Regions from separate parts of the Homo sapiens genome. Here regions 1, 2 and 4 are each reported to be linked to region 3. The links are microRNA targets in miRTarBase. Many come from high-throughput screens and were not tested one by one. Region 3 holds a microRNA gene; each other region holds the end of a gene's coding sequence.

Region 1 (3,000 bases), not on the chromosome of region 3:
TTTCAGAGAAGTCCAGCTTTTTACCATATAACCATTCATTCTGTCTTCCAATGTGATCCTTAAGGAAAAAAAAAATTCCCCCATAGTCGTGTGATGTTTAAAATGTGTTTATTATACCTTGCCTGTCATTTTTCTGGCTTTTAGCTAAAATGTTTTGAATTGAGTGGTGATATTCCCGACTTAACTCTGAACCCTCTCTATTCAGGTCTGTGAGAACTCCTGACGTCTGAAGCTTGACTCCCAAGTTTCCATAGCAACAGGAAAAAAAAAAATCTATCCAAATCTGAAGATTGCGGTTTACAGCTATCGAACTTCACAACTAGGCCTCAATTGTTCCGGTTTTTTATTTTCTTTACAATTTCACTTAGTCTGTACTTCATCATTTTGACAGCATCTTCCTCCCTCCTTTAATTAATGGAATCTTCTGAATTTTCCCTGAATGTTTAAAGATCATGACATATGACTTGATCTTCTGGGAGCAGGAACAATGACTACTTTTTCTGGTGTGTTAACATGTCGCTAGCCAGTGCTCCAGGCACCCAGCTTTGTCTGTGGGTTAGTATTGGTGTATGTATGAGTATCTGTATGTATATATACACGGTATTTATAGAGAGAGACTATCCTGGAGAAGCCTCGTTTTGATGCCATTCTTCCTTGCAAGGTTAAGCAAGGTGGGTGGAAACTAAGACACCTGAACCCTCCAGGGCCTCCCGCATCAAGGTCAGCATGAGGACAGACCACAGAGCTGTCACTTTTGCTCCGAAGCTACTTCTCCACTGTCCCGTTCAGTCTGAATGCTGCCACAACCAGCCAGGCAGGTCCACAGAGAGGGAGAGCAGAGAAAGAAGTCCTTTCTCTTTATTGAGTTCGAGGACTACAACCAATTTACACTGCCATCTGATGCCGTGATCCTGAGCCAAGGAGGTGAGGAGCAGAGCAGGCAATTTCACCACCAAATGCCAAGAAAAGGGCTGACATTTTCTTTCATGGGCACCAACCTGCATTTGTATGTGTCCCGAATCCACAGTCGTACTGATTCTAATGGGGACACAGATCATGGTAGAGAATCTCTCCCTCCTCAGTAAATGTACAACTGCACCTGTCATCATGGAGGTCATACATGCATACAAAGAGGTGTACAGGTACCATCTTGTATACACATATATACCCACATGTACAGACATACATTTATGCACATTCACGCTGTTTGTTTCATATATACAGGCATAAAATAGAGTAAATACAGGTAGTTTTAAAAGTACCCTTTTGTGTGAATTGACTACCGTTGTTTGCAAACCCGAAAATAAAAGACGTTCATTATGTATGAAAAGTAACTGATTTGTATTCTGTGAGCATGTAAAAGCGGAAAGTTAGTGCTTGTTCTAAGATTACCTTCTTGTTGATAAACCATAAATGAATCATCAAAGCTCACACCAAATTTTTCTATCAAATAAAACTAGTGACAGCTTGTGGCTTTTTATTAGAGCTCGCCACGAACTAGGGTAAGGTGAGTGTCTTAGCATATTTTAATGCAGTTGCTTACTAAAGGTTTTAACCGCACATGCACACACACACGCTTTCTTATGCAATCTATGTTTGCACTTGTGCTTTCAGTTAGCCTTCTGTAGGAAGTAGAAGTCATATGTTGTCTTTGTTGTAGTGAAATTATACAGATAGAGTTCCATATATTGTATTTGTTTCAATGGTAAATCCTTTTGGAACATATAGAATGCAGAGATTTTTTTTTCCATTAAAATAAATGGGTATTGGTGGTTAAAACTGCTGGACAGTAACTGTTCTCTGATTTCTATCTTGTGTCCAATGTCACTGATGTTGGGTCTTGTCTTAGTGCAAGTTCACATTTTTGACAGACCATTTGGGGTCCGTCGTACATCTCTGGTTGGTGAGTGAGTCTATGAAGACAGAAGTACCAGTTCTCAGCATGGGCCATGGACTCATCTTGTCCACCTCATGATATGATCTGAGGGTGTCATAATCAGCTATAAAGGTAATTGCATACTCAAAGATGAGACGGACCATTCTCAGTTGATGACCACATTAAGCATAGTCATGGCCATCTGTCAACAGTCCCAAGACCTGGGGATTTTTCTCTGGAACAAATCCTGTTGCTGGATCAGGAGATGCCACACCTTGAACTTGATAGGGTCATTCTCCACGAGCACATGCCCCCGACTCAGGGACAGGGGAATCTAAGCCTGTGCATTCACACTCCACAAGATTTCCTCTACTGGCTTTACAGGGCACTGTCACGCGTCTCCCGGGCGCACCTTGCTCCCCTCTTCCTGCAAGGCAGGGGGAGAACGTTCATCCTTGAACAAACAAAGAGCATCCTCAGCCAGTCAGGCGGCTGGTAGCCGGACACATATGCTAACTGGCAATCAGGAAGTCACCCTCCAATGTAAACTTCAGCCACATGCAGGGAGAAACACAGCAGCTGAGTGGCCATTCACTCAAGGAAACAAATACAGCATGACTCCTTTTCTCTCAAGCTGGTAGGCTCTCCTGCACTTTGTGAACCGAACCAGAAGATTAACTTCGCTGAAAATTCAGAAAAATAGGAGTAAAGTGCACACTTCATTAATAAATAGAATATGCCTCAACTTTCCCTTATTTAAACATATTCTCTGTCCCCACAGTTCTAATCAGGACAGAGATACTTCTGTCATGTTGTTCCTCCTAATAGTTTCCAGAAAAAAAGGAAAATAAACCAATTCTTATAGGCCAAAGTGGTAGCATTTCCTGAATCATAAGATGTTTTGTTCATTTGCTGGAATATATTACATTGTTTACTGAAAACCATAGTAGAATCAAAATGTTATTTCATTATTACCTATGCATTTTATCTGAGTCCAACTTATTAAAAAACGAAGTCAAGTAAGGACCAGAAATTGCTTTTCCCAATTACTGAGCACAGGTCTGAGGGTTTTATTTCCACTGAGCAAATAGTCACACCTTCACTTCTTTTTATTAATACTCAAC
Region 2 (6,945 bases), not on the chromosome of region 3:
ACACTCAGTCTCTCCTTTCAGGGCCAGCTCGTGACCAAAGATTACCCGGCCTATGCACTGGCTGTCATCGGGCTGCTTGTGGCCTCCTCCACCATGTGCATCCCCCTGGCGGCCCTGGGGACTTTTGTTCAGCGTCGCCTCAAGAGGGGAGACGCAGACCCCGTGGCCTGAGATGTGGGCTTCCCAGCCGCTCACGGTTTTACAGATACTATTTACAGGCGGAAACTCCTCGGCTGCTTTTTCAAATGCTTAAGCCAGGAGTGCTCAGCCCATCAACTTCCTGAGTGTCTAAAGAAGATGAGGAAGGTGTGCAGGAAGAAAACTCCCTTGGGAGAACGCACACCCTCCCGTGGTGGCTGTTCCTCCCTGTCACCTGCCTCCTCATCATGGAAGGGGGTGGGCTATGAAAGCCGGTCTCAAAGATAACTGCATCCTTCATTCCAGGAAAGCCCTAGAATTAGGGCACATTGCAAACTGAAATATGACTATAATTCTTATGGGACCAAATTTAAGCAATTTTTGTTTTTGGCTGAAGAGACACCAAAATATTAGAGGACAAATATTTTTAGATCCATTTAAGGAGTTTTGAAGTGCCTAAGATGACCTATTTGTCAGTGGTGCAAAATTAATTCTCTTCTTTTTTGAGTTGTAGTGAATATGCAATTTCTGTGTTCCCCTTCCACCCTTTAAATCTTAGGATGACAAGTTATAAAGAAAGAAGATCTTTGTCTGGGACCCCCAAAGGGATCCTTTCTCTAAGGTCTCTGACGGTGGGTCCAGGACCAGACCTCTCTACAAAAAATTGCCCCAACTACAGTTTGCAACCCCAAACCACATTAGAAGTCTGTGCAGACATCCCTCCGTGGTGTGTGTCTTGGTGCATTGGAAAAGGAGTCAGGAGCCACTGTGAGGTGAGAATGAAAGTGGATCTCAGCTGGGCACGGTGGCTCACGCCTGTAATCCTAGCACCTTGGGGGTCAAGGTGGGTGGATCACTTGAGGTCAGGAGTTTGAGGCCAGCCTGGCCAACATGGCGAAACCCCATTTCTACTAAAAATACAAAAAAATTAGCTGGGAGTGGTGGCATAGGCCTGTAATTCCAGCTACTCTGGCTGCTGAGGCACAAGAATCATTTGAACCTAGGAGGTGGCGGTTGCTGTGAGCCAAGATCATGCCACTCCACTCCAGTCTGGGCGACAGAGCAAGACTCTGACTCAAAAAAAAAAAAAAAAAAAAGTGGCTCTGACTTTCCCATAGGCTTAATATTACATTTGGACATCGTGGCCAACTCTATCAAGACCACAAATACCACTTACAATTAATTTTAAATTATTCATCTGTACATAGTTTTCTAAAATGTATATAATTCAAACAGAGCATCTTGTAACTGAAGACACACCATATCTATGATATCGCATTAGTCCATGTGGGGAAAAGAAAGATCAGATTGTTACTGTGTCTGTGTAGAAAAGGAAGACATAAGAAACTCCATTTTGATCTGTACTAAGAAAAATTGTTTCTGCTTTGAGATGTTGTTAGCCTATAACTTTAGCCCCAACTCTGTGCTCACAGAAACATGCGCTGTAATGAATCAAAGTTTAATGGATTTAGGGCTGTGCAGGATGTGCCTTGTTAACAATATGTTTGCAGGCTGTATGCTTGGTAGAAGTCATCGCCATTCTCCATTCTCGATTAACCAGGGACACAATGCACAGCAGAAAGCTGCAGGGACCTCTGCCCAAGAAAGCCTGGGTATTGTCCAAGGTTTCCCCCCCACTGAGACAGCCTGAGATATGGCCTCATGGGAAGGGAAAGACCTGACTGTCCCCCAGCCCGACACCTGTAAAGGGTCGGTGCTGAGGAGGAATAGTGAAGGAGGGAGGCCTCTTTGCAGTTGAGATAAGAGGAAGGCTTCTGTCTCCTGCTTGTCCCTGGTAATGGAATGTCTCGGTGTAAAAAGCTGACCATTCCCATTCGTTCTATTCTGAGATAGGAGAAAACCGCCCTGTGGCTGGAGGTGAGATATGCTGGCAGCAATACTGCTCTGTTACTCCTTGCTACACTGAGATGTTTGGGTAAAGAGAAACATAAATCTAGCCTACGTGCACATCTGGGCACAGTACCTTTCCTTGAACTTATTCGTGATACAGATTCCTTTGCTCACATGTTTCCCTGCTGACCTTCTTCCCACCTGTTGCCCTGCTACACTCCCCTCGCTAAGACAGTAAAAATAATGATCAATAAATACTGAGGGAACTCAGAGGCCAGCGCCGGTGCGGGTCCTCCACATGCTGAGCGCCGGTCCTGGGCCCACTGTTCTTTCTCTATACTTTGTCTCTGTGTCTTATTTCTTTTCTCAAAAAAATTTTTCTTTTTTTAACTGCAATAAAGTAGGTCGTTACCCCTAAAGTGAGCGAGTCCCTTCCTGCTCTAACGTCCAGTGCTTCCTTGAGATCATGGAATTCTGGAGAGTTTCTGTGGATATATTTGCACAGATATCTTTGAAGACACAAACACTCACCTGGGACGTTGGCCGGAGATGTCTTTTTATTTTTGTGCTGTAAAATTCTCTTACAGCAAAAATAGGCTTTAGAAAGGTCTTCTACTGTCTTCAGCAACCATCTCATCTTCCAGCTTCACCTGATTGTCCAGTTATCATACATTTGACTTTCAAATGTATGAACCAGCATGTACCCCATGGATTTAATCTTATCTACCCCGTGGATTCAATCTTCTTATCAGAAGGTTCTTTTATGTCAAAAAACCTGCTGTCAAGGCTTGAAGAGCCGGCACACTCAATGGCAAACACAGCACCGAGTCTGCTCTGAATCCTGGAGGATCTGGCCCTCCTCTCAATCCCCACTCACAGTCACCGTCTTACAACTCAGGGCCACCTGGGATCAGTCATCAGTCAGGGTGCGTAAGCCTTGAATACCAGGTAGCCTCAGGAGTGAAAAGATAAATGTCCTAGATCATTACCTTATTCAGTGTCCCCACCTTGCAGCGCATTCCAACCACCTGGGAGCATTTAAAACTCCAGATGCCCACACCACACCCTGGGGCCACCCATCAGACCTTCTGGAAGCAAGACCTGGGCCTCCATGGCCCCAAAAACTCCCTAGGTGATCCGATGTGCAGCCAAATCTGAGAGGCCCCATTTAAAAAAGAAAGAACATGGGTGGTACATTGAGGAGTATTTACATTTTATAAAATGACTTAAAAATTTGAAGGCATTTTTGAGCATTTCCAATTATATGGAAGAGTTACTTCTACGGAATAGTTTTTGCTCATGGAACTCAAACAGATGAAGCACCACTGTTACAGAATAATGTGCTCCAGATGAAAATGTCTCGTTTCTGTGAATTTCATGAAGAGCAGAACATTTCTCAAGAATCCTCTTGAGCCAGTAATCAATCCTGTCTCAAAAAATGTTCTTTGCCATTTCCTAGATACTGCACAAAAGTGGCCATGTCGACATTTGTCCACCCACCCTCCAATAAGCTGGAGCGACAAAGGGACATTCCATCCCTGTACCCTTAGTGGTAGCCATGACACGATGGCCAGATCATGGACTCCGGAAAGCTTTCTGTTTTTACTGGAAACATAGCAAACCTTGATTTAGCTCCAAGAAATTGAGTAGGGAAATATTTGTTTTTTAGCAATTGTCATAGTAAATAAAACTCTAAGCAAGTGTATCTACAGTTTTTGGTTTTGGGTTTTGCTTTTGTCACTTACTGGATACAGTTTAAGACTTCTCTCAACACAAGATTTTCTCTCATGTAGAAACACAAGCTAATTTTGAAAAAATGGAAAATAAGTGGGGGGGACAAATCCATCCAACCTTTTTTTCTGTCACCCTTTTCTGCGTTTACCTCTTCATATAACCCGTGAGACCGCACCAATGCAGTGGATGAAGTCTATCATGGGAAGATGAGAGATAGATAGAGTCCACAAGAAAAGTTAGAAAAAAAATTTCTAATTGGCCGGATTTAAAACAGAATGTGAGCCCCTTGGAATTGCTGCAGAATCTTGCCACTCCTTTTGAGAGTGTCCCGGGCAGTCTTGCCCATCTCAGCGTCTCTTTTTGGCCAGGGCCATGCAGAACCACATTAGGTTTGAATGTGACCTCAGAGCCTCACCTCAGAGGGGGGAGTGTGTAAACTATTGTATTTGATTTTTGTATGAGTTACTTTACATGGAAAAATTAACTTATGCCACCTTATAGGTAGAAAAGCTGGGGTAGAGAATTAACTAAGCCGATTTTCTGCCCTACATCAGTCAGGGGAAGAAAAAAATAACAGATTTACACATCCCTTTGCAAGGCAAAAATTGCATCTACAAATAGCAAATTCTTAACCTGAATTTCCTGACCAGTCTCTTACATGTGGATCACTTTTCTATTATTCACCCTCCTGTAGGGTGGGTGGATCAGCCTTTTTTGAGATTACCCAACTAGTATATTACAAACCAGTCCCTTGGTATGCGCCGGGGGCAATGGTGAACAGGATAGACACAGTCGCTGGCCTTTATGGCACTTACATTCTGGAAAAGGAGACAGACAATGATGCATAACAAATAAATCATATGATTACAGACTGTGATCATGTCTAAGAAGGAAATAAATGGCCCGATGTGGTGGCGTTAACAGGACAGTACTTTAAGCGGTTGAGGAACTTCGTGAACTGAAATTTGAAGAAGAAGGAACGAGTCATTAAAATTCCTAGAAGGCCTGTCCAGGAGAGGTGACAGCAACTGCAAAGGCCCTGAGGAGGGAAAGAGCAGAGAGGAGGCCTGTGGTTGGAATGGGAAAGTGAGCGATGGGAAGTGAGCTTGGAGGAGGGAGCAGGGGCCAGATCACATAAGGCCTCACAGGCCACAGCAAGGAGCTTCATTTTCGTTGAAGAGAAAGAGAGTGCCACTGAGGGTTCACTGTGGGGTCTGGCAAGATCTGATTTATGTTTGAAAGATCACTGTTGCCATAGAGGATGGATGGGAGCGGGGCATAAAGGGAGGCTGGAAAATCACTCCAGAATCTACTGTAGTAAAGCCATGGAAGATGATGGCAGCATGGACGTGGGAATGGATATGGAGAAAAATAGGCAAGCTTGAGTTATACTTTGGAGGGAAAGTTGCCAAGTCTTGCTGATGGGTTGGATTCCCAGCTGAGGGAAAGGGGGATAAAGAGCTTTACCTGCTGGGGGGATGCTGGTGCCATTTCCGGAGATGAGGAAAGTGGGGAACAGAGCTGGCCTGCAGAGTAAAAATCAAGAGTGGTTTGACCATGTGAAGTTTGAGATGTCTGTGAATTAGGTGGAAATATCCAGTAACCTGTTGAACACAAGAATCTGGAGGTTGGGTTACGTCTGGGCTAGAGATATACATTTGGGAGTTACAGTGGAGAGATGCTATTTAAAGCCACAGGTCTAAATGAGGTCATCCAGGGTGAGTATACACAAAGAAGAGGGCCTGCGACCAAGGCCTACAGGAACTCCAATGTGTTTTCGGACATGGCCACATGTGATTTTCCACCTCTCCCACGGAGGGATAGGGTCTGTGTATTTAGGTGGGCTTGTGATTGCTTCAACCAAAAGAATATGATGGAAGGGACACCATTTGACATTCAAGGCTAGATCATGTGGCCATGCAGCTTCAACCTGGTTTGTTGGAACATTCACCTGGGGAGCCCTAAGTTGCCATGAATGAAGCCCCACCACCCTGAGGCTGCTGTACTCCAGCTCACAGGACCAGCTGAGTCCACCTTCCAGCCATGCCTGGGCACCAGACAAGCTTGGGCCAGACAGACCAGCCCATCTGTCAAATGAATGCCACTGAGTCACCTCCATCAGTGCCATCTGGAACAGAAGAATCACCCAGGCAAACTCTGCCTGAATTCCTGACTCACAGCATTGTGAAGTAGAGAGGAGAGATTAACAAGGAATGGAGCAGCCAGGTGTGGTGGCTCACACCTGTCATCCCAACACTGGGGGGCCCAAGCCAGCGGATCGCTTGAGGCCAGGAACTGGGGACCAGCCTGGGCAACATGGCAAAACCTCGTCTCTACAACAAATACAAAAATTAGCCAAGCCTGGTGATGCATGCCTGGAGTCCCAGCTATTCGGGAGGCTGAGGTGAGAGGATCACTTGAGCCTGGGAAGCAGAGGTTGCACCACTGCGCTCCAGCCTGGGTGACAGAGCAAGAACCTGTCTCAAAACAAAAAACAAAAACAAAAAACAAAAACAAAACCCAGGAGAATGTGTGGTCCCAGAAGCTCAGAGAGAACATCATAAATTCTGCTAAACATGACTTACCACTTAACACTTTCTACTTTTCCTAATGTTAGTCTATATTTGAACCCAACTATAATAGGAGCTTGATTTGGGACATAAAATGTTAACACAGTATTTTAGTGGATGGTACTTTAGGTTTGTACAACTAGAATAAAGGGCAATAGGCATGCATCACTGAAAATGGTGAATGGAGAAAGATGAACACCTGAACCTTTGACTAAACAAAAACAAAAAGCAAATTCATGCTCAGAATAATCTACCAAGGCAAGTGTTAGGAACAAACAGATCATCTAACTCCTTCACCTGGGACCAGGGAATTCACTTAAACGTGTCACAGCCCCTTACTAATTGGTCCCCCAGTGAGAGCACATCATGGAGCCTCTGCATGGATGTCCAGCCCAGAGGAACGAGGCCAGAGGCAGGAAAGGATGAGCGCTGGACACCAGGGAAGACTCCCCACTCGTAGACTTACCCGGATCTCTCAGCAGGTGTGTGCAGATGTGCATGTGTGTGTGCATGGCTCTTAAGGAATTACCACCTGGATGAGATTTTTAAAATTTATAATTGAGGGGCCATCAGATTCAACACTCAGGTGAGGTACAAATAGATTATAGCCCATGTTTCTCAGCTTCAAGGCCAGAGTAGTCACGTCCATGCT
Region 3 (7,643 bases):
GTCTTGTGGGGACCCTCCAGTCCTGGGTCCGTCTGTTCAGTGGAGGCGCTGGCTTGTTGGTAAAGAAGGTTGTTCCTGTCAGTTTCTTACAGCCTGTTGCAGGGTGGGGGGAGCTAATATCTTCACATCTGATTAACTGAGAACCTGTGACAGGTCCCACCCATGGGTCGGCCGCGGGGAGCTGCTGAGCTGAGGCTGGGAAACAGCACTTAACTGGCGGATTCAAGTTCAGGTTTCCATGCTTTCCAAAGCAGCCCGTGCCCCCACCCAGCCTGCCCTTCCATCAGACTGGATTAGGAGTGAAGGCCCAGGGGGGCCTCTCAAGTCTTGGCTGCTGAGTGTGACAAGACAGTATCCCCAGGAGTGCCTGGACACGGAGGCTTCAGCAGATGTCAACGAAGGGCCCACAGCTGGGGAGGCATTGTGGCGTGGAGGAAAGCTCTGAGCCATGTGGACCTGCGTTCAAACCCTGCCACTTGGCAGATGAATCCACAGTGGGAACTCAGGTTCCCCAGCACACCCACATCCTGCTCTTCCAGACAGCCCGTCTTCATCCAAAACTACTATGTCCCGTGCAGACAGCCCTGCTCTCCGAAGGTGCTATGGCTGGGCTAAGGCAGTGAGCGTTCTAGCCTCAGTTGTCACACGCCCTTTGATCTGAGCTAGTTTCTGATGTGATACTTCACTTAAAAATGGAAGAGTACTGGTCACATCTGTCTCCTACTGACCCCGAGACCCCGGTTTGCTCTCAGGCTGGAATCTAGAGGCCTCTCTGCCAGGCCCTGGGTGGAGGTTCTCTCAAGTCTCTTAGGAGATGCCAGAGGAGCAGCTAGCAGAACCCATTCAGAGTCAGCTGAGGCACGGGTGAAGGATGCCGGCGAGGGCAGTTGCAGAGCCTCGGGGAGCCTCCTGCCTGGAGAGAGTGGCGGAGCTGCTCTCCGGCTTCCTCCCTCCCTCACCTCCAGGGGCAGCCCCAGCACGGGCAGGGTGCCCCCAGGTCTGGAGGCAGCAAAGGCCGACTCCTGGCAGGACCTCAGTCAAATCCGTGACAGCAATGTCCGGTTCTGATGAGGTCCACCAAATTTATGCCACCCACTGGCCAGATCCCCGGTGGTCAAAGCAAGTCACAAGACCCGGTGACTCACAGGAGCCAGGGGATTAGTGGTCTTTGTGCAGAACCCCACCTATTCAGCAGTTCAGCTTTGCTTTAGTGGTTTCTAAAGAAGATAAAGCATGGCTTTCACTTTTTGGAAAAGCAAGGTCACCCCAAACCACTGGGCCGGTGAGCCACCCGCAGCTCTTGAGAGCTCCAGGTGCCAAGCATCTGCACACAGTGGGAGTGGGAGCCTCGCAGGGCAGTGCGGCCGGTACTCCCACGGTCCTTCCTGGCTCTGCCTCAGTGAAAGCCAAACACACTTAGAAAGCGCAGAGAGAGAGAGAGAGAGAGGCCGGGTACAGTGGTTCACGCCTATAATCCCGGCACTTTGGGAGGCCGAGGCAGGTGGATCACGTGAGGTCGGGAGTTCGAGACCAGCCTGACCAACGTGGTGAAACCCCATCTCCACTAAAAATACAAAATTAGCTGGGCATGGTGGCGGGAGCCTGTAATCCCAGCTACTCGGGAGGCTGGGGCAGGAGAATCGCTTGAACCCGGGAGGCGGAGGTTGCAGTGTACAGAGATCGTGCCATTGCATTCCAGCCTGCGCAACAAGAGTGAAACTGTCAAAAAAAAGAAAGGAAGGAAAAAAAAAAGGCAGCAGCACACAGAGAGAAAGCATCGTTCATTCTAAATCTCCACAGGAAGCCGCGGTCGTGTATTTATTCAAACATAACAGTCAAGTTCTGAGCCATCCTCCACGATGGCACAGCCAGCTATACAGTCCCACGCAAAGGCATGTGACAGCAGAGAGCAAATCCTAAGAACGTTCTGGAATCAGTCACTGGGACAAGAAAAGAGAGTTCTGGAGACCAAGGCCTCCCAGTCCAGAGCTTCTAATGAGATCCATGGTAGAGCCCCACTTCACCCCAAACAGGCCAGAATTTGTGCTGCCCCCTGGAGCCAGGCAGAGGAGACTGTGGGTGTGTTCAGGTGCACTCATGCTCAGCCCAACTTGGCACAGGGCCCATGGCTGCACCCGTTCCTACAGCCTTCTCCAGGCATTTTCAAACATTCTGCCCCATGGACAGTGCCAAGGAAGCTCAGTGCCCAGCTTCTGTCTATACCCTAAACCTTGTGGAGAAAGAAAAATCATACCACCAGACTCCCACGATGCCTGAATATGCCCAGGCTCTCCATTTTATCGGAAGAGGGTGCCCCACGCGCAGCCAAATTACTTTTGTTTTCAGGCTTCTAAGAGAACTAACACTACCTTGAAAACAACAAAGAAACTAGTGAGGTGGGGGGGGAACACCAGAATGTGGAGAATACCTTTTTCTTGTACGTGCTTTTTTTTTTTTTTTTTTTTTTTTTTTGAGATGGAGTCTTGCTCTGTCGCCCAGGCTGGAGTGCAGTGGCGCAATCTCGGCTCACTGCAACTGCCACCTCCTGGGTTCAAGCGATTCTCCTGCCTCAGTCTCCCGAGTAGCTGGGATTACAGGTGCCCACCACCACGCCCGCCTAATTTTTTGTATTTTAGTAGAGACAGGGTTTCACCATGTTAGCCAGGATGGTCTCGATCTCCTGACCTCGTGATCCACCCACCTCGGCCTCCCAAAGTGCTGGGATTATAGGCATGAGCCACCGCACCTGGCCTTTATTATTTTTAAACAGTATGAAATTTAGAAGCAAACACGTATACAAAAAAAAAATCCATTACATTTATTAATAATATATCTTAGATTCTCATCCTGTTCTTTTAAATGGCGCCCACTGGTCTCATACAGAGGAGCTGTGTGACTTTCTGGAATTATAGAAATATCCGCATCCAGCCATGTGCTGAGCAGACCAATGTAAAATGTTCAGCAGGTTTTCCAATGTCTCTTGGATATATTTAATCATCTCTGCAGAAGAACTCAAAATCTCAGAGCAGCTCCACTCCAGATCCAGGGCAGGAGGCAGCCTCCAGGGAGGGAGGCTGCGTTTACGAGAATCTGCCTTTTGTGTGTGCCTGGCTGGGACCAGCCTCTGGGAAAGAGAAGCACCAAGATGTGAACAGGGCTGTGGGCCGATGGCTTTAGCAGCCACATAATCCCTCCTTTGATGTCCAGGGTCAGTTCGAGCCTGGTCCCCCAGGCTAGGAGGAGACGAATGAAAGAATCTTGCTGTGGTCTTTCCTGCAAAGGAAACAGCAGTAACATTGATTACCCAGTCACCGGGAGGAATTCTTGTGAGCGCGCACCTCTGTGTGCCTTTGCTCTCCACTTTCAAGAGAGGACTTTAATCACAGGACAAGGAGAAGACCCAGGCCCATTTCAGTCTCCGGGACGGGTCACAGCGAGCCGTGTGACGCTGGCCTGCTCACACGTGGCCATGACACCAGCAGGCTGTACTCAGGCTTTGCGTACACAATAGCTGCTAGGAGTACCCATTTCAGACACGCACCCACTCTAACTGTTCTCAGAAAGTCTCAGCTCACCTCGCCGTGGGAGAGCTGGGCCCTGCCTCCCTTACACATGGGGGCAAACGGCCCCCTGCTGGCACTGTGTCCTGCCTTCAGGCCTGGGAGCTCTTAACTTTCTGCCAACAGGGTTTTCCAAGTCTACAAACCCCCACGCCGCAGGAGCACATGCAGATGACTGGCACCGTGCTGCCGCCGGGCCGGGGTGGACGCAGGGTGGACGCGGGCCTGTCTGCCGCGAGTGGGAGCCCCAGCTCTCCTGAGCCTCGGGCACTTACAGACACGAAGGCTTTTTGCTCAAGGGCTCGACTCCTGTTCCTGCTGAACTGAGCCAGTGTGTAAAATGAGAACTGATATCAGCTCAGTAGGCACCGGAGGGCGGGTCCAATCGACAGCCCGGAGAAGCAGCGCCTCAGCTGGGAGCTCCGTGGGCACCGTCTGCTGGCGCAGGAGACGCGAAGGCCTGGACTGCAAATACAAGAGAGAGTTCACCGCGCCCAGAACAACAGGAGCTCCTCCGAAAGCCCCGCCCCGCCCCGCTCACAGCCATGAGCTACCACATGATTTCACACGACTTAGGTGATGCATTTGGTTTTAGTTTTTTGTAAGAAGAATTTTTGCAACTTTCAATACATTTGACCTTTCAGACAGATGTCCGATTAGTGCATGTTTCTGTGGACAGACTTAAGGACTCAGTACATGGCTAGCATTCCCAGCAGGAGACAGTGCATCCTTGGGGTCAAGTGGTCTCTCATCCTCCAGGATCGCGCTCCGCACCCAAGCTGACTGTGCAGCAGCGGCCGGCCCGTCAGCAACGGCCTCTGCCCCAGCGGCTCCAACTTAACTGTCCCCATCTCACCTTCTCTTCAGGTGCAGAACTTAGCCACTGTGAACAAAGCGGAAACCAATCACTGTTCACCAATCAGCTAAGCTCTGCACCTTGTTAGAGAGGTCATCGCTGGGCATAAATAAAGGGACGGTGACCGGTGAGCATCTTCCTCAGCTGGTGGCTTCTTTTGTTTCCAAAGAAGAGCTACGAGATGCACCTGTTCTCCAATCTGCAGTGAGCGCGACCACGGTTTCTGGAGGAGCAGCCAAGGTCGTGGTTGCGTGGTAATCCCTGGCAATGTGATTTTAATCTTAAGTCACAAATCAGCATGCCAGGAACCCAAGCAGCCAGAGCACCTGAGAGCAGCGCCACCCCGTGCTGTCTGCACACACTGGGCTTCCGCGGAAGGACGCCGGCGACACTGCCGCCTTCACGCCTGTTATGCTAGCAAACAGGTGGAGTTTCTGTTTGTTGTTCGTTTAGTTGGCATCCTAGAGGTATAATTTCTTGAATCAAAGGGACTCCAGAGATGACCATAAAAATGCCAGTGCAGCTTTGGAACTGAAGAAAAATGCAGGGACCGGCCATGCGACACACACAATTGCTAAAGGCAGCTGTCCTTGCTATTAGTTTACTGCCTCTAACCCTTGGGGACAAGATCCCTTCTCTCCAGGCAGATTCTAGCTGCCCTGGGAAGGCTTTGGGGACTCTCAAGTCAGGAGGTCCCCCTGCTGGAAGGGGCCCTGGGACAATCCCGGCCACTGTTCCTCACGGGGACTGGTTGGGGGGCAGGCTTGCAACCCCTGGATGCATCTGGAGGGGTGGGGACAGGATCGAAGATGCTGGGGAGGGGGAAAAGGGAGACTTGTGACCAAGATGACTCCTTTGCCTGCCTGGGCAAAAATTCCCCATAAAGAGTGGCGAGGGGTGTGCCCTGTGGTGCTGCTCCAAAACCTGCACCAAAGGGAATGATGAAAGGACTAGCTGGCCTTGTAGTTTCACACACTTTAACACGTACGCCACGAAATAACAAAACGAAAGAGAAACACCATTTACACTGATTACTATTATGAGGCCGGCAGTGAGGTAAGTGCACAGTCTGTGTGCCGCCAGCCCGTCCTGGAGGGGAGCCGCGTCAAGTCTGCAGCAGGCGTTTCGCTACGAGACGCTCAGTCCCGTTTCCCTTTCCTGGCACACATGGTTCCTGACTCTTCTGGAAGAATATGATCATGCTTCTGAAAAACTTTTTATTTCTTTTCATTATTAGAGTTCTTTCAGATAAATAAGCTACTTAAACACGTTACACAGAAATGGTTTTCATAAGCACAAAACATTAGAAGAAAACTCAATGTTCAAAACTGAGTGAAGAATATCAACACCAAATATTCAATATCCATGAAAAATTATAGAGAAGCTATAACACGAAAAATGCTTCAGATTTGATAAAGTTTTTTTAAAGATACAAAATTAGACATCCCCTATTAATATCATATAAAACACTGAAGAAAAACGGAGCAGACACAGAAATAATGATGATTGTTAGAGAAAAAAAATCTCACAGCTATCCTAACAAAACCTTGTGTACTACCGCTAGGTTGCTTTAATAGTGTAGAAACCCATACTGAGCAACTAACTGCTAGGAAGTAAATCTAACAGGTTAATTCCAGGCACAATTAACAGAGGAAGTGATTTAAATAATCTAGGACTCCAATAGAAGCCAGGGGAGAAATTCCGCTCCAACACAACAAAGCAAAAAGTAGGACCTGCCCTCAAGACACAGGGTCATGGAGGCCATATGCCACGTGTGCTGTGTGCGCCGCGGGTGCTGTGTGGTGCGTGCACTGTGTGTGCCACATGTGCTCTGTGTGGTGCGTGCGGTGTGTGCTGTGTGTGCCGCAGGTGCTCTGTGTGGTGCACGCGCTGTGTGTGGTGTGTGTGCTGCATGCAGTGTGCGCGCTACGTGTGGTGCATGTGCTGTGTGTGCTCTGTGTTGTGCATGCGCTGTGTGTGGTGTGTGTGCCGCGTGTACTCTGCGTGGTGTGTGTGCTGTGGGTGCTCCAGGTGCTCTGTGTGGTGTGTGTGCTGCGTGTGCCGCGTGTGCTCTGTGTGGTGCGTGCGCTGTTTGGTGTGTATGCTGCATGTGCCGTGTGTGCTCTGCGTGGTGCGTGCGCTGTGTGTGCTGTGTGTGCCGCGTGTGCTCTGTGTGGTGCGTGCGCTGTGTGGTGTGTGCTGTGCGTGCTCTGTGTGGTGCGTCCTCTGGTGTGTGTGTGCTGCATGCAGTGTGTGTGCTACGTGTGGTGCATGTGCTGTGTGTGCTGCGTGTGCCTGGAGAGCCTCCTGCCAGCCGATGACCAGGCGTGGACAGCCCAAGGAACCTCCAATTCACACATGGCTAGAAGAAAACATCTGCTTGCAGAAGCTAGGCTTTGGAGTCACACGGCCGCTTAAACTCCTGTATCAGCCGTGACCCTGAAGACTGGACCAGCGCTTCTGCCAGGCTTCCCATTCCATCTCTAAACCTACTCAAGATGTTCCCCCACAATTTTTGTTTCAACAGATTATAAAACCTGAAGTGGCCAAAATAGTGCCAAGGAGTGCCGCTGTGCCTCCAGGTGGACAGCCTCTGCTTCCCGGTGACTGCCACAGCCAGGCAAGGTGCTCCAGGGACCCGGGGCTCCCATACCAGCCCAGCACCCACTTGGCCAGTTACTCTCCAGGCCCTGGGCCAGGGAGCCGACTATTGATGCTGCGGGTAGTCTTGGCTAACTATTCGGCTTACTGATTTAGTTGGCTCCTAAAAGGAGTATCTGGTTAGAACTAAATGACAGAAAGGAAAGGGAGAGAATCACCTCGTTAAAATAACATTTCGGCCACCACCTGGGCTGAGGACCTATCCATCTGCTCCTTGGTCCGCTCGAAGCACCTACGGGCGAGCTGCTGCTGTCTGGCGTCCTCACTCACCATCAGCTCCCCGTAGAGGTACACACCCATGGCCTGCAGGGCACAGAGGCCAAAGGGCATCAGGCGAAGGTGTGGGTACCCACACACACGCACACATGAGCTCAGTCTGTGCTTGTTCCACACACACTTGCTGGTCTAGAAATTGCAAAGACCCCAGAGAAGACAGAGGCCGTGGGCTGACTGTGCTTTTGGAAGCTGCAGTCTGCAATCCCTGTCTCCTCCTTGTACTCAAAACCCCAAGGAATCCTCAGCTCCCAATTCTCTACACAGACTCTGACGATTTCACTGGTGACAGA
Region 4 (7,345 bases), not on the chromosome of region 3:
GGCTCTGGGAGTCAGCTTCTGGCTGATGAACAGTGGATGTGGCTCTTGCGGCACAGAGCGGGGTCGCAGAATGCTGTACGTGGCGTGCATTTGACTCAGCCCTCCCCCAGCTCACAGTTTCCCTCTTGTTTCTGCTCAGTTTTTATGGCACAGGCCTCATCGCGGGCCACGGCTTCACCAGCCCTGAACGCACCCCCGGGGTCTTCATCCTCTTCGATGAGGACCGCTTCGGGTTCGTCTGGCTGGAGCTGAAATCCTTCAGCCTGTACAGCCGGGTCCAGGCCACCTTCCGGAACGCAGATGCGCCGTCCCCACAGGCCTTCGATGAGATGCTCAAGAACATTCAGTCCCTCACCTCCTGACCGGCCACATCCTTGCCGCCACATCCCGGGTGGCTCTGGGGCTCTGAACTCTGACCTGTGAATAGAAGCAGCATGCACTTTGGAAATCCGGCCTTTTGACCAGAACGCACACCTCGTCGGGGGGCCCAGTCCAGCCACCCCCCAGCACTTTATGTAGAGAGTGTGACATAGACCTGCATATTTGTCAGTGCCATGATGGAAGAAGCTGAGCATGTCTTACCAAAAACAGAGAGAACGAGCCTGAATACAGCAGATGTAGGGGACAGCCGTGGGACCGCGTGAGAATTGAAGCGGTGGGGTTCCCGCACCCTGGGCTGGCTGGTGGTTTTCTCGGGAAGCAGGACCCTCCTGACTGGTGCTCTTCCTGTGAGCGGATAGAGTGATAGACTGGGTCGTGTGTGAGACGCATGTGCTCCACCCCACTCCTTTTGGGGGAAGCCAGGCAACAGTGGCCTCTGGGAGGGGGTCAGGAAGAGGCGAACAGCTCAGGCAGCGCAGGTGTGATGGGCACAGTACGCAGAGCAAGCTCGGGAAGTTGGTAGGATCTCAGGCTTGGGGCCGGGACTCTGGAGTGAATCCCCATTTCTCTACCGGCTTGCTTGGAGTTTGGACAGAAGCATTTCACCTCTGATCTCAGCTTCCCCACCTGTGGAGTGGGTTTAGTGACCTGAGTCACTAGGGAATGTCACCTGAATGCACAGCCCAGCCCATGCACCTGCCCCAGCCCCTCCAGCTTTGGAGCCAAGGCCATCGTTCCAGCCACTTGACTGTCCTCGACGGCCTGTTCCAGACAGGGCGTTTGTTTTGTCCATGCCTTCCTCCCTGCACGCACACGGCGTCAAAACCAAGCTGCCGGCCACTGTCTCCAGAACGCAAGGCTCCAGGCCCGTGTGTCTGAAGCAGTGAGTGGTCCACACAGGTGCCAGGAGTGCCCATATGAGATGACGAGGAAACCCCTTTGCAGGTGAGGGGACAGCTTTCTAGAAAAGCCACACCTGCATCTGGGGACACACTTTGGAAAGTGGGACCCTCCAGCCTGGAGACCCCATGGACTGATGCCTCCACTGCTGTGTGCCCCATGTTGTGTTAACACCTGCGTGTGGGGACCCCATCTGAGGTCTTGGCTGAGGTTGGCATCTCCTGAAGAACAGAGAGCACGGTGTCCAGAGCTGGCCCTTCCCCCAGCCCACAGCCAGCTCCGTGCCCGAGTGGGCGTCCCCAGCGAGCCTTCCCTCTCTGCCGCTTGTCCTTGTGTCTGGGCTGCTCCAAGTCCTTGTGCTGGGCACCCTGGACACGTCCTGCTGGTGAGGGACCTCGGGAAGGTGACAGTCTGTGTGCCTTGGTGTGGAGACCAACCTGAGGATGTCCTGGGAAATGTTTTCCTGATGAATTTCTCCTTGACTGGCCTTTAAAGAACATAAGAATTCCCATTGCCCAGCCTCAGTGCATTTGGCAAATGCTTACTTTGCTTCCCAGAGTCAGAGAATTGGCAAAGGTTCCTAAATGGTAATCTGGCCGGCCTGGGAGAAAGACTCACGAGAAAAGCCAGTGGAGAAAGCGCCCTTCCAGGGCGGCAGCAGCGGGAGCCACGCAGACCCCGAGGCGCACCTGCTGGCTCTTGTGTGTGGCCCCAGTTTCTAGCGGCTTTTGCAGCATTAGCCTACAAGCTTTGTCACTCCCTGCCCTCTGTGGTGGTCACTGTTTTTCTCTCTTGCCAAATGAGGCAGTCTCTGAGTGACGGTGACTGTGGCCTTGAAGCCTGGAGGACTGTTGGGCATGTAGACTGGCACCTTGAAGATTCACCATTGTTTAAATAAAATCAAGCAAATGCTTTTTTACCAAGAGCCCGAGCCTCGCTCTAAGGGACGCAGTCCTAGAGGCGTGCCCTTTGGGGCTTGAAGAGCACACTGTGGGACGCACGTGCTTCTGATTAAAGGAATCTCAGATCTCAATTACGCTTCCAGTGTTTGGGTATAGAAATAGCTTCCACCCATCATGTCTCAGCCATGGGCTGTTGGTCAGTTCATGTGGCTCCTGGTTCTGGTGTGTATGTTGGGGGCGGGGGTCTCTCCATGGTGGTGACCTGCAGTGATGCCAGGCAGGGCCAGAGCCACACAGCCAGGAAAGGGAGGCCTTTTTGGCCGCACAGCCAGTCCCTTCAGTCGTGACTACAGGTCTTGTTTTTTCCGCTCCGATGTGTCCTTAGCCAGTTCTTGGCTCCGGTTCTGTAGGGACAGGCACTGAATCTGCGCGCCTCAAAACAGCAGCTTCCCTTCCGGGGGAGGGCATCCACCCTCTCAGGGGATCCTGCAGGTGGCCCATTTCCTGCAGGTGAGAACTCGGAAGGGCTGATGTCGTCATCAGAGGCCTAAGGGCAGCTGAGAGTTGGATAAAACCGTTTCCAAGGAGGAGGCTGAGTAACCCAGTTCAGGACAGCCAAGCGCATTAGGCTTGATTGGGGAAGGTGGCAGGTGGAGTTGGGAGGTTGGGACTCTCCATCTTTTGCACCACGGATGCCTTTCTGTCGCTGTCTCACTCTGGGGCAGGATCAAGTCTGCTCTCTGGAGTGGGGCTGCCTGCAGTGCAGCTCTGCACACCTGAACGTGTTCTTTGTCACTTGTTTGGAAATGATGTGATTGAAGATTTCAGAGAGGTCATTGGAGGCTTTTCTGTGCCGGCACTGAATGTTCATTTGCATGAGGAAGTTGCAAACGACTTCTGCAGGCTGAGATTCAAGGCAGGTGGTATTGGGGTCCCTCAGCCCACCTGGGCCGTGACCTCAAGTGTCCACTGCTGAGTGTGAGTGGCTTTGCAGGCCTGGTGGTGGGAGAGCCTCAGGCTCCCTCCTTCTTCGTTCCTGACCATGCCCTGGGCCCCTTCAGTCTGCCTGCGGCTCTGTGGCATCCCTGCCCTGACACTGGGCACCTGTGCCCCTAGCAAGCCCACCTGGCACACGAGGAGGGAGGGGTGGGTGGCCATGTCCTTCCTCTAGCCACATGCCCTGCTGGCCGCTCCATTCTGAGCTTTGTGCAGAACCGGGTCTGAGCTGGAGATTTTTCTCTGAGAACCTGCAGTTGTGCTGCAGCCGCACGCAAGGGCCCTTCAGCCGCTGGCTCTGGCTTCCCTGACTCCTCAGGGCGTGTTCACCCCCAGGCTTTCTCACCTGCACACGGTTAGGCCATTTTCAGTGCTCGTGGGCAGTCACGGACAGCAGCAGAAACTCCTCAGCCCCTTTGTTACTTCAGAACGCCTGCCCACATGCATCTTCTGAGCTCGTGTTGTCCTCATGGCCGTGGGGTCTTGGGTGCGAACAGGAGATGCTGAGCTGTGGTCCACCGTCCAAGGTGCTGCAGAAAGCAGCTAGGCTCTTTTAGGATGTTTCTATTCTGGTTGCTGCCTTCGTGGTGTAACTTTTAAGAACACTTACGGGAATGTGCTCATAGAACCATCACCTGTCCTGAGAATAAAACTCCTGGAATCATGATCAAGTCCAGTGTTAACGTGGCCCAACCTGTCTGTACTTCTGGGGAGAGACCAGGAACATCACTGGACTCCTCATCCCCGTAATTATTTAGAGAAGATGCAAGCAGCAGATAGTCTCCATGCGGCTGGTACTTTTTTTGTTGTTTTTTGAGACAGGGTCTTGCTCTGTCACCTGGGCTGGAGTGCAGAGCGGCGATCATGGCTCCCTGAGGCCTCAACCTACTAGGCTCAAGCTGTCTGCCCGCCTTAGCCTCCCAAGTAGCTGGGACCACAGGCACCCACCACCACCATGCTTGGCTAACTTGTTTTTGTAGAGATGGAGTTTTGCCATGTTGCTCAGGTTGGTCTCGAACTCCCGATCTCAGGTGATCCACCCGCCTCGGCCTCCCAAAGTGCTGGGATTACAGGCGTGAGCCCCTGCGCCCCAGCCTTGGGGCCTGTCTTTGAATGGGAATGAGACTGTGCAAACCGTGGACTACCCTGTGTCACCCACAGCTCAGTGGCCTGCCTGCCGGCCCTCAGGGGCTGCTGACCGGGAGACCAGCCAGAGCACGAGGGGGTCAGGGCTGTGTGGGTTTTGGCCTGATTCTGCATTTGGTTGTTTCTGGGGGCCATGTAGCCTGCCTGCATTAGGAAAGCGCTGTGCCATCTGATCATGAGCACCTCTGCACCCCCTGGTAAGGTGACCTTGCAGCAGGAGCTGTGCCCTGCCTGGGTAGGCACCCACTAGGTAGGACCGGAGCAATCCTGGCAGCCGCCACCTGCACCCGTGCACTTGTTTCTCCTCACAGTTTCAAGTAAATCCGTTTTTGAAGGCTTGTTGTGTGTTTTGTGATTTCTTTGGGAATATGAGTTGGACGGAGGCGAGAGCCTTAAGCCATGCGAGCTGTCGGCCTGGGAACCCAGACTTCCCAGCTTCTTGAGGAAGTGTCAGATTTCCCGCGTTGACAGAAGGGAGCATTGAAGGGATGCCTTGGAGCCCAGACAGTGGTTGTCCCTGTGTCCTTCCCTTTGACCTGGCATCAGAGGTGTCTCGAGTCCCTACCCAGGGACCCAGAGGAGTTCGGGCCCCAGTAGATTTTCTTAGATTTAAGCCAAAGTGAGTTGCATTATCTGCAACGAGGACAGATATGGGAGGGAATGTGCTGAGAGCCAGGCAGATGAACTGAGGATCTCATTGATCTTTCTTTTGTGTTTACTAAACTCATATGTTCTTGTAAACAGTTCTTTAGCATAGACAGTGAAAGTACCCCCTGTTCTCATCCCAGCCTCCCCGTGAGTCACTGCTGCTAATTAATGCTGTTAGCTTGGAATTGTAGAAACAGGATGTTTTCCATGGTAATGCACTCAAAGTACACCCTCGATTGGCAGAAATTGGCAAGTGTGATTTTCCAAGTGTTGGCAGTGATGCAGGGGAACAGGAACGCAGGTGGGGCAGCTGTTTTGGGGACAGCTGGTACTAGCTCATGGCACTAAGGACACGGGCCCAGGGACTGGCATCTGCATCCTGAGGTGTCCACCCTCGGGCAACGCGAGAGCCCAGGCATGGGCCACGCAGGGATGTTCATTGCTACACTGTGACAACTGTCACAGGCCGGAAGGAGGCAGGTGGACTACGGTGGAGCCACCCATGCTGTCACCTGGCAGACGGGCACACAGCCTTGTTCCGTTGCAAAACAAGTGAGAGATGGTATTGGTGTAACATGTAAAAATGCAAATACTTAATTTTTATCAATTCATGTGTGGGGAAAAGCTGAAGATACGCGTGGGAATGGTGTGGTCACTTCTAGGGGTGTCGGAGGGTAGAACTTCAACTGTTTTGCTTTAAAAAGTAAGGATCGCATGGCAGAACTAGCATCTGTTCACCTGTTGATCCTGATACCGTGGATTACGAGACCCCCCCTCTTTTCTGTGTGGTTCAGAAACAAGCCCCTCAGACAGGACACAGTGCCCAGGGGCAGTGACCTGCAGGCCCACCCACTGCCATCTCCGCTGGTCTCGGGGTTGCCACATAGCCTGCCAGCTGCGGCTGCTTCCTGGGTGCCCTCCAGGGAGAGCAGGGGATCGTGGGTCCCCGGCGGTGGGTGTTTCCTTCTCCGGGGAGAGCAGGGGATCGTGGGTCCCCGGTGGTGGGTGTTTCCTTCTCTAAGGTTTGCTGCTGTTTCCAGGCCTTTCTGTGGGGCCTGGGTCCTGTCCTGGGGCCAAGCCACGGGGTCATCCTCAGCTGCACTGGGCGTGCCAACCACAAACGAGTCACTTGCTACAAGCAGCACCATGCAGCCTCCTGTCTGGACGAGACCCTGCCCCCCACAGACTGGAGACGCACCCCGATTTCCCAGGTCACAGGGGGAAGTGTGGATCTGATAAGGGACTAAATGTGGCGTCTTTCATATGTTTCTCTTACATATTTTATTTTAAAATGAAAAAAAAAATAAGGTCATGGGGAACGAGTAGAAGGCTGCTTCCTGCTGCAGTTCCCCTCTTGCTCCAAGAGTGGGGATGGCCCAGCTGGGGGGACCTGCTCCGGGCCTGGGTGCCGCAGCCTCACCTAGACACAAGGGCACAGGCTTTGTTCTCCAGGGATCTGTCCGACACCAGCATCCCCCCGGGGGCTCAGACCCTGCACTTTTCTGTCTGCTGCTGGGGTTGAGGGGACAGCAGATGGGCAGCGAGGGCTGGTGGCTGCCCAGGCTGGCCATGCCCAACACCAGCAGGTGAGGCGGAGGCCGAGAGGGTGTTGTGGCCGGGTCACCTGGGCCCATATGGAGCTCACTCCTCCCTGTGGGGGCCGCTTGGCTGTGCTGCCGGAGGCATGGCGCTTTCCCCACCCGATGGATGGCGGGGCTTCATCCTTCCTCCCCTTGCAGGAGGCACGGTGCCCAGGGTCCTCCGTTTGTCCCCCCTCCTTAGGGGAGGTCCCCTTTTGTGGTGTGACCTCTAGTGGGCATGTAGGGTCACTGCAGAGGGCTTGCCCCCAGCCAGCAATGTGAAACAAAATGCCATTTGGATAGTTTCCAAACCTACCCCGGCCCCCTCCCCATTTTGACTTGAAAATCCCCAAGTGACAGAAGGCACAATGCGTGTCCTTCCTATCTTTGCCTCCGTCCCTCTTCTTCCTGAGGGGTGCGATCCCTGGCGCCTTCCCTTCTTCCTTGTGTGCCGGCGTGGGCCCTCCCTGCCGTCCCTGAAGCCCACCTGCACTGCCTCTGAGCCGCGGAGGTCCTGGAAGCAAGGTGGAAAGGTGCTGGAGGGCCAGGGGGAGGCGCCCCTGCAGCGCTGTCCCTCCCCAGCAAACAAGCAGCTGGGCTCTGCTGGGTGTTCTCCATGGCACCGTGTTTGGCAGACATTAACCACGGAACAACCAGGAGTGCTGGTGTGGCTGGGATCAGCCCACTCCACAGGAGAGGAAGCAGCAGCTCAGAGAGGCTGAGTAATTTGCCCAGGGTCACACAGCCAGGGAGTATTAGCCCAGGGCCCCAGCCCCGCAGCCTCACCTCTCC

What was found. Region 3 holds the annotated microRNA hsa-miR-3074-5p (GUUCCUGCUGAACUGAGCCAG, at 3,872-3,892, shown strand). A microRNA usually pairs through its seed, bases 2 to 8, with sites in the 3' UTR of a target mRNA and lowers its output. Matches are read on the target gene's strand: a 7mer-m8 pairs with bases 2 to 8, a 7mer-A1 pairs with bases 2 to 7 and ends in A, and an 8mer does both.
Region 1: miRTarBase lists CDH13 as a target of hsa-miR-3074-5p. Seed matches in the 3' UTR shown: 7mer-A1 at 258-264 and 7mer-m8 at 479-485.
Region 2: the mRNA of SLC6A20 is a reported target of hsa-miR-3074-5p. Seed matches in the 3' UTR shown: 7mer-m8 at 311-317 and 7mer-A1 at 442-448.
Region 4: the mRNA of FBXO31 is a reported target of hsa-miR-3074-5p. Seed matches in the 3' UTR shown: 7mer-A1 at 2,482-2,488.

The regions. Positions count from the first base shown.
Region 1 is chr16:83,794,818-83,797,817 of GRCh38, forward strand. It overlaps CDH13 (cadherin 13), which reads left to right. Exons shown (of 14, transcript NM_001257.5): 14 at 206-3,000. The coding sequence ends at 213. CDH13-AS2 (CDH13 antisense RNA 2) reads right to left here. Exons shown (of 3, transcript NR_120308.1): 3 at 2,419-2,559. Among named protein-coding and RNA genes, the nearest start is that of CDH13-AS2, 7.7 kb to the right of the region's middle.
Region 2 is chr3:45,752,204-45,759,148 of GRCh38, reverse strand. SLC6A20 (solute carrier family 6 member 20) reads left to right here. Exons shown (of 11, transcript NM_020208.4): 11 at 22-3,700. The coding sequence ends at 171. Among named protein-coding and RNA genes, the nearest start is that of SLC6A20, 41 kb to the left of the region's middle.
Region 3 is chr9:95,082,312-95,089,954 of GRCh38, reverse strand. It overlaps MIR3074 (microRNA 3074), which reads left to right and starts at 3,861; the gene lies at 3,861-3,941. AOPEP (aminopeptidase O (putative)) reads right to left here. Exons shown (of 17, transcript NM_001193329.3): 16 at 7,236-7,380; 17 at 2,796-3,273. The coding sequence ends at 7,240. It overlaps MIR23B (microRNA 23b), which reads right to left and starts at 4,747; the gene lies at 4,651-4,747. It overlaps MIR27B (microRNA 27b), which reads right to left and starts at 4,510; the gene lies at 4,414-4,510. It also overlaps MIR24-1. RefSeq lists an enhancer at 1-2.
Region 4 is chr16:87,324,305-87,331,649 of GRCh38, reverse strand. FBXO31 (F-box protein 31) reads left to right here. Exons shown (of 9, transcript NM_024735.5): 9 at 140-4,663. The coding sequence ends at 362. Among named protein-coding and RNA genes, the nearest start is that of C16orf95-DT, 10 kb to the right of the region's middle. RefSeq lists an enhancer at 1-403.